2 linked regions of the Homo sapiens genome follow. The protein of the gene in region 1 purifies or fractionates together with the protein of each later gene. This does not show direct contact. Each region holds a gene or a part of one and is shown on either strand. Other genes may lie near its edges.

The links. The genes of interacting proteins can lie anywhere in the genome.
Region 2: the proteins of ABITRAM (region 1) and ZHX2 purify together in Homo sapiens (affinity purification with mass spectrometry; 2 studies listed by BioGRID and IntAct, with this or other methods). This does not show direct contact.

Annotation. Positions count from the first base shown.
Region 1 is NC_000009.12:108,932,294-108,936,047, reverse strand, and holds the start of ABITRAM (protein Abitram), read right to left. Parts: upstream 1,649-3,754; 5' UTR 1,562-1,648; coding exon 1,483-1,561; intron 411-1,482; coding exon 359-410; intron 1-358. UniProt on the Homo sapiens protein: Actin-binding protein that regulates actin polymerization, filopodia dynamics and increases the branching of proximal dendrites of developing neurons.
Region 2 is NC_000008.11:122,952,647-122,956,400, reverse strand, and holds part of ZHX2 (zinc fingers and homeoboxes protein 2), read right to left. Parts: coding exon 2,377-3,754; 3' UTR 2,373-2,376; exon of another isoform or gene 864-2,372; intron 1-863. UniProt on the Homo sapiens protein: Acts as a transcriptional repressor. Represses the promoter activity of the CDC25C gene stimulated by NFYA.

The DNA.
Region 1 (3,754 bases):
GAAATAAGGCATGCCTGTGTATACGAGATACCATACATGTCTCTACCGTAGCCCTTTCTGTGGGCTCTGAACAGTTCAGTAGTTGGGCACAGACTGGCCACTTCAAGTAGCAGCTGATGATGTGGTCCTCCATTTGGATGTTTGAGTAATCAAATTTATATGTTCAGAGTGGCCAGGCACTGGAATACTCATTCTTGCCAAACAAACTCCTATAATAATACCATTTCAACACAGTAGAAGATAATTAATGCATGTTTGTTTAGTGAACATTTGTTCAATCCAAGACCACAAGACCATACCAGGCTACAATACCAGGAAAAAAAAATTTTTGATAATTTAAAATTCCCAATTTGCTTACCGGTTAGAGTGCTGTAGTATACAGTGGTCCTCACAAAATTTTCCTTTGACATCTAGAAGAATACATGAGTCTGTTGGTGGCTGAAATCAATATTTACTACCACTATGTGGTACTTTCTTTGGGTCATATAGTTGATAATGAAGACTGGACACATACATGCTGCATGCTGATCACGGGTATCCCTTCATTACTCAAAAAGACATACCTAAAGGTTTCCTAGAAAGTATTTAAAGAGATCTGGCCCAGATAGAATAATTTATTCAACATTAAGGTAATTAACTCCTTGCTCCATCTTACTTTACACTCACTTCAAAATGAGTACACGTAGTATTTTTGCTAGGAAAATGCAATTAGCATCCCGTTCTTTATGATATATATTTTTTGTTGGTGGTTTCCAGGACTGTCCTGATGTTGGTGCAAGTCCGACATTCTGGGAAACCCCTCAGTCATGGGTGAACTAGGACAGGTTGGTCACCCTATGTTTGGCCAACAGAAAATATGCTACAATATATATTTTTTAAACTGAGTATAACCATTATCACTGAATGAAAGGAAGAAAGGAGAGTCCCCAACGATGCTCCCACCACTGGTTCTGCTTACACAAAACAGTACAAAAAGAATACCTACTTCTAAGTGGCAGATGGCGTCTCTTAAGGTAAATGTATAGATTCTTCTTCTTTCTAAATGTCTCTAATCTAACCCACCCTCTTCTCGCCATCCCTACTGCCTCTACCTTAGTTTCGATCTGATCATTTAAATAATTTTATGTATCGCTACTCCCTGTGAGAGTGAGCCCCTCAATCCCTCCAGGCACTTAAGGACTGTTGCAACCTAGCCCTCCGCCTACCTTTGGGGCCTCCGTTTAGAGTACTCATCTTACTGCGAGCAACACCCTAGAGCTCGCACTGCAATCGCCGGCCCCAGAATGCGCCCTGAAGTATTTCAGGCCACCAGGTCTTTGCAAATGCCATTCCCTGGGGCTAGACGGAACACAGAAGTCCAGTGCCTTCTGACGTGGGGACGGAGAGCCAGGGAGAGCGCGCGTGGCTTATGATCTGTCAACATAGTCTACACAGCATTAGGCCAGTGCGGCCAAGGAGGGATCAACATCACTCCGCACTTACCCGGTTTGTACCAGCGAGTGAAGTATCGATCCACGAGCGAAGGCACCACCGGCTCCGCGGCTTCGGGCTCGGTAGCCATGGCGACCTCCGGCGCCGCCACCCCCGCCCTCCGGGACCCCAGCGCTTCCTCCGCGCAGCCCGGACTGGGCGTGCTCTTCCGGCGCACAGCGCGTGTCGTGCGCACGCGCGCTGCTCTCAGGTCCGCAGGTTCCACCCCCCCCCCCGCCCCCCCCAATTACAGTGCTTTGGGGTTCGACATCAAAACAGAGATCAAATACAAAAGTTTGGGCAGATGGGCAAGAGGGCAGAGGGACAGGGGACGCGGCCAATGTAGCTCCTCTACCTCTACGGTGCCAGGCCTACAAAGAAGGCCGGCCGCCGTAAGTGACCAGAAGCGGGCCCGGCCTCGCCCCCTCCGCCTGGTGACGTCACTCCCGCGCCGCACTCCCAGTGCTGCGGCTGCCTAGTTGACGCACCCATTGAGTCGCTGGCTTCTTTGCAGCGCTTCAGCGTTTTCCCCTGGAGGGCGCCTCCATCCTTGGAGGCCTAGTGCCGTCGGAGAGAGAGCGGGAGCCGCGGACAGAGACGCGTGCGCAATTCGGAGCCGACTCTGGGTGCGGACTGTGGGAGCTGACTCTGGGTAGCCGGCTGCGCGTGGCTGGGGAGGCGAGGCCGGACGCACCTCTGTTTGGGGGTCCTCAGGTAAGCGATCCATCCAGGGTAGGGGCACGGGAGTGGACCTCTCCGCCGGCGGTGTCCGGGTGAAGGAGACCCGGAGCCTCCTCTGCCTGCTGCGGGCCGGGGACTGGAGTGCGGGCTGCACCACCTCTTTCCTAGAGCCTTAAATTCTTTTTGCAGCCTTGCCACCTGCTCCATCGGGGGCGCTGGGAGGCGCGACAGCCCAGGGATGCCTGCTGCCCCTCCAGCCGGACTTAACCCAGCCTCTTGATTGCTTGCAGGGGGTTGATAATAACGCTGAAAGCGAGAGTATTAATTCACGATGGAAGGCGGCGGTTAATAGAGGCTCGGGTGCTGTGGTGCGGGTCCTTTCTCGCGTGTGAGACTTTTTCGTGGAGGTGGTGTCCTCTGTGCTTCTCCATCTAACGTGGTGTTTTACGTGGCTTTCTCTCCCGTTAACGATGATCTCCGTGGAGACAGTGGCTGAGTAATCTTCAGATCCCAGTACTTAGCAAGTGCTCAGTCGGTGTTGGATGTAGGCCACAAACCGGATCGTAAAGAATTCAACTGTATATTGACAGCCACGGAACTAATCAATGAATAGATCCGTATGAAGAGTAAGCAAAAAGGCAGCAAAGACAGTTTTTCAGCTTGGGGACATAGAGTAGAAATGGTCTGTCCCCAAATAGTGGGAACTGTCATTTGGGGGAAGAATAGCAAGTTCTTTGCTTTCCAGGTCGCATTTGATGTGCATGTGAGACATGCTTGTGATTCTATCAGGAGGTTGAAAATGTGGGTTTAGTGGTAAGTTTGGGCTAATTCAGTCAGGGCTAGGCATTTAGGCCTAATCAGCGTATTGGTGATCTACCTGGTATATGTAATCATGCATGTGATGTCTAGCCAAGAGGTGGATAGTCGAAGGAGCAAGGGAAGAAAATGAAGCAGTTATCAGGAAATTAAGAGAGAATCCACGATTGACCTTTGGTGTGGAGGGATCTTTAGCACATTTAAGAACTGCGAAGAGTTTGAATCAGTGGAGGCAGGAAGGTTGGAGGTTGCAGATGTCCAAGAAAGAGTACTAATAGGCCTAGGTCCTGTGGCAATATGGAGGATATTCCTTTCCTAGCCTGGAAAGAAGTGGAGGGAAGTCTTCCTCCGAGAAGATAAGGGAATAAGGCTGATGGGTGTGAAATTTCAGAGAAACTAGTTTTGAGGCGTTTTTATGATGTTTAAAGATGAAAAACGCAGCCAGGCACGGTGGCTCAGGCCTGTAATCCCAGCACTTTGGGAGGCAGAGGCGGGTGGATCACTTGAGGTTAGGAGTTCAAGAACAGCCTGGCCAACATGGTGAAACCCTGTCTCTACTAAAAATACAAAAATTAACTGGGCATGGTGCCGGGCGCCTGTAATCCCAGCTACTCCGGAGGCTGAGGCAGGAGAATCGCTTGAACCCGGGAGGCAGATGTTGCGGTGAGCCGAGATCGCGCCATTGCACCCCAGCCTGGGCAATAAGAGCGAAACTCCGTCTCAAAAAACAAAAAAACCTGCATGATATGTTAGAGGTTCAAGTAATTTCTAGCAGTTCTTGAATATA
Region 2 (3,754 bases), on another chromosome or scaffold:
TCACACTGATGAGTAAAGGAAAATGCGATTTCCTCTCTCCTTGGCCTGCCCGAGCTCCACAGTGAATGGGTACTGTGTTGTCTGTCTCTCTCATGGCACTGTTTCTAGCTCCTGGAGTAGCAGCAGGCATACAGTAGGTGCTCAGAAGGTACTGTTGAATGGAACTGAACCCTATTGTCCTCTCTGGGGTGGGAGGAAAAAGCAACCATGTAGACACGTGTCATGGATGGGAAAAGATCAAGGATAGAAGATGGGAGGTCGGGCGTGGTGGCTCACGCCTGTAATCCCAGCACTTTGGGAGGCCAAGGTGGGTGGATCATCTGAGGTCAGGAGTTTGAGATCAGCCTGGCCAACACGGCAAAACCCCGTCTCTACTAAAAATATGAAAATTAGCCGGGTGGGGTGGCGCATGCCTGTAATCCCAGCTACTCGGGAGGCTGATGCAGGAGAACTGCTTGAACCCAAGAGGTGGAGGTTGCAGTGAGTTGAGATCGTGCCATTGCATTCCAGCCTGGGCAACAGAGTGAGACTCTGTCTCAAAAAAAAAAAAAAAAAAAAAAATCACTCCCTCATTTTAATGAGGGAGGTATGGGCTAGACTGGTAGGTTCTTCTAAGGTGGGAGAATGGCCAGAGGTGGCCAGGTAGAGGTGGGAAGTTGCTGTCATTGTGACCTCAGTACACTTCTATCCCCTTCCTTTCACTCACGCCCTCCCCTTTGGGTTGTGCCCACACCCTTGACACACAGGCATTTCCTCCTGCAAGTGGGAGGAGAAAGGAGAATGGAACATGATGGCATTCTGGGATTGGCTGCTCGTTAAAGTGCTCTTTTAATAGCGGATGGAACTGGCTAAAACAAGGTTTCTAGAGAATTTCATTTATTTGTCAGCTGCCTCATTTTATTAGTGAATCAATGAGTTAATGAGCGACGTGGTCAGCCAAAGTTGTCCAAGTTCATTAAGACAGAGGTGTGGTAATTTCCAGGGCTGCCTTTGGGACCTTATCAATCATTCTGGAGGTTCTTACCTTTATTTTATATTTTGTAAAGATAACTTGGGAGGCCCATTCCGTGGTATTTTAAGTGACCTCTGGAGAAGCCTACCTGGGCAAATCGTGCATCTTCCTCCTTGTAATATTTGCTTTCCCTCCCACCAGCCCTCCCCCTGCCACTGCCCCCATTTCTCAACTCACCACCAAGCTGCTGTGCTTCAGGCCTCGATTTGCACTGACCTCTTAGGAAGCAGAATACCAAGGGCTTCAGTGGCATGTCCCATTATGGGGATGACATGGCCATTAGTAACCATGGAAACCGCCCTGCCACCCCCCCCCCCCCGGCTTATGTGACTCTACAGGCCTAATTTACACCCGGCTCTTCCAGATTTGAAGGGGTTATGGGGACCCAAGCACAGTGGCACCTTCCTTTTGCCCTGACAAGGCAAATATCAAGCACTTTCAAAGCCTTTTCAGATTAGAAGAAATAAGCTCAGGTCTTTGATTCAGTAAACTTGGATATGTATTCTTAAAAAATCCAAAAAGAAAAGGGGGGAAAAAAAAAAAGAAACAACCTCTTCATGTTTGGTGTTTTTACAGCAACAAACACAAAACACACAGAGGGAGGATGTGTTTTCTAACAGTCAAAACTAACCTTCAGAATGGACAGGCCTGAAGGCTGGAGCCCAAACAGGCCACAGCCAGCGGTGCTGCCCCCTGGGCACAGCCTTACAAATGAGGACGTAGGTTCCATCAGCCCCCATTTTTCTTCTTTTTTCAAAGAACCTTTACAAATAACTCATCAGCCGGGCTCAGTGGCTCATGCCTGTAATCCCAGCACTTTGGGAGGCAGATGCAAAGGAATTCCTTGAGTCCAGGAGTTTGAGACCAGCCTGGGCAACAAAGTGAGACCCCGTCTCTACCAAAATATTAAAATATTAGTTGGGTGTGGTGGCAGATGCCTGAAGTCCCAGCTACTTGATAAGCTGAGGGGGGAGGATCGCTTGGGCCCAGGAGTTTGAGGCTACAATGACCTATGATCGAGCCACTGCACTGCAGCCTGGGTGGCAGAGCAAGACTCTGTCACTAAAAACAAAACAAAACAAAACACCAAAACCAAAACCAGACCCTTCCACTACAAGAATAAGTATGTGAGGTAATGCATACGGGAATCAGCTTAACTGAGCCATCCCACTAGGTAAACATATTTCAAAACATCATATTGTATGTGATCAATATACATCATTCTTATTTGTTAATTACAAGAAAAAGACGCCACCATCTGTGTCAACATCTCTGTACCCTACAATCTATATTAACCCTGGCAACGAAAAGAAAGCAAGCTGCGTTCTCCCCTGCTGCCTGGGTGAGCAGGTGGAATTACCTGTCTAGGCCTGGCCAGCCTCTGCAGGGACGCAGTCGGAGTCTGATTCAGCCAGTTCCGACACACCTTCTGCCGCAGCCTGACTCCAGCTATCTGATCTATCTGAGATCGCATCCTCCTCCCCGACCGTCACCTCCACGTAATCCACAACGCTCGACTCCTCGTTCTCGTCGCTACCCTGGCCGTCCCGGCTGCTGCCCTCTGACCGGTCTGAGGTGGCCTCTGAGGGCTTTGCTGGCAAACAGTCTTTTGCTGGCTCGCTGCCTACTTTTACCCTGGTCACCAACTTCTCCAAGTCCTCTTCGCAGAGCTTTTTGGGGTCCTTGTAATATTGTGGAACCACATCACCCCCGTTCTTTGGGCTCTCGGCCATGGGTTTTGTTGCTTTCCTTGCTACGGCATCGTAGCCGTGATCATCTGCCATGGGCTGGTGCTGGTACTGCTCCATCCACTTCACGGTTCCCGTTTTCAGCAAGCATCTGTTCTCCTTGAACCAACGCACAATCTCAGTTCGGACCAGGCCAGTCTTGGCCGCTAACTGGTCGTACTCCTGGGGAGTAGGCCACTGGGTTCTTGCAAACGTGCTCCTCAGGAGATGAACCTGTTCTTGACTTTTTGCAATTGCTGGCGAAGGGCTGGGCAGAGAACTTGTTAACTGGGCACCGGAGAGCTGGTCGAGTCGAGACAGAGCACCATTGGGGGCTCCCACATCTTGGCCTTTTTTGCCAGACCCCATGGAATCCAAGACAGCTTGTTCCATGCTGTCTCGAAGCTTCCGCCTCTCCGAGAACCAGGAGTCGATCTCTCTCCTGCTCAGCTTGGTCTCCACCCTTAGCCGATCCAGTTCTGCTTGGGTAGGAAAAGAACTTTTCAAAAAGCTGTCTTCCAAGATTTTAACCTGACCCTGTGTTTTCTCTTTGAACTTCTGGGGGGCAAAGTCTGGGTACGCATGATACGTGCGACCGTGTCGGGAGGCCGCGATGGCCAACTGGTCTTTGGCAAGGGATTCGCTGGTGATGTGGACGATGCCCCTTTGACACCGATATCGGTGGTCACTGAACCACTTCTTGATCTCGCTCCTGGCAAGGCCAGTCACCTCGATGAGCCGGTAAACCTCGGCATCGTCAGGGAACTGGCTCTGGAGAAAGCTGGCCTTGAGATGTGCTATCTGCTCCTTTGTCTTCTTGCGGTCACTGGCTGGTGTGAGCGGGGGGTTGGCCACCTTGGGTGGGGGCTCTGGCACCTGAGCGATGTGTGGACGCTTGGGTTCGGGGGCAGCTTGGGGAGTCACCAAGGGTCTCTTCTGGCCATGGTTGGTGACTCCTGCCACGGCAAGTGTGATGGGGGAGCAAGAGACGGTTGTTGACCCGCTGGTCACCTGA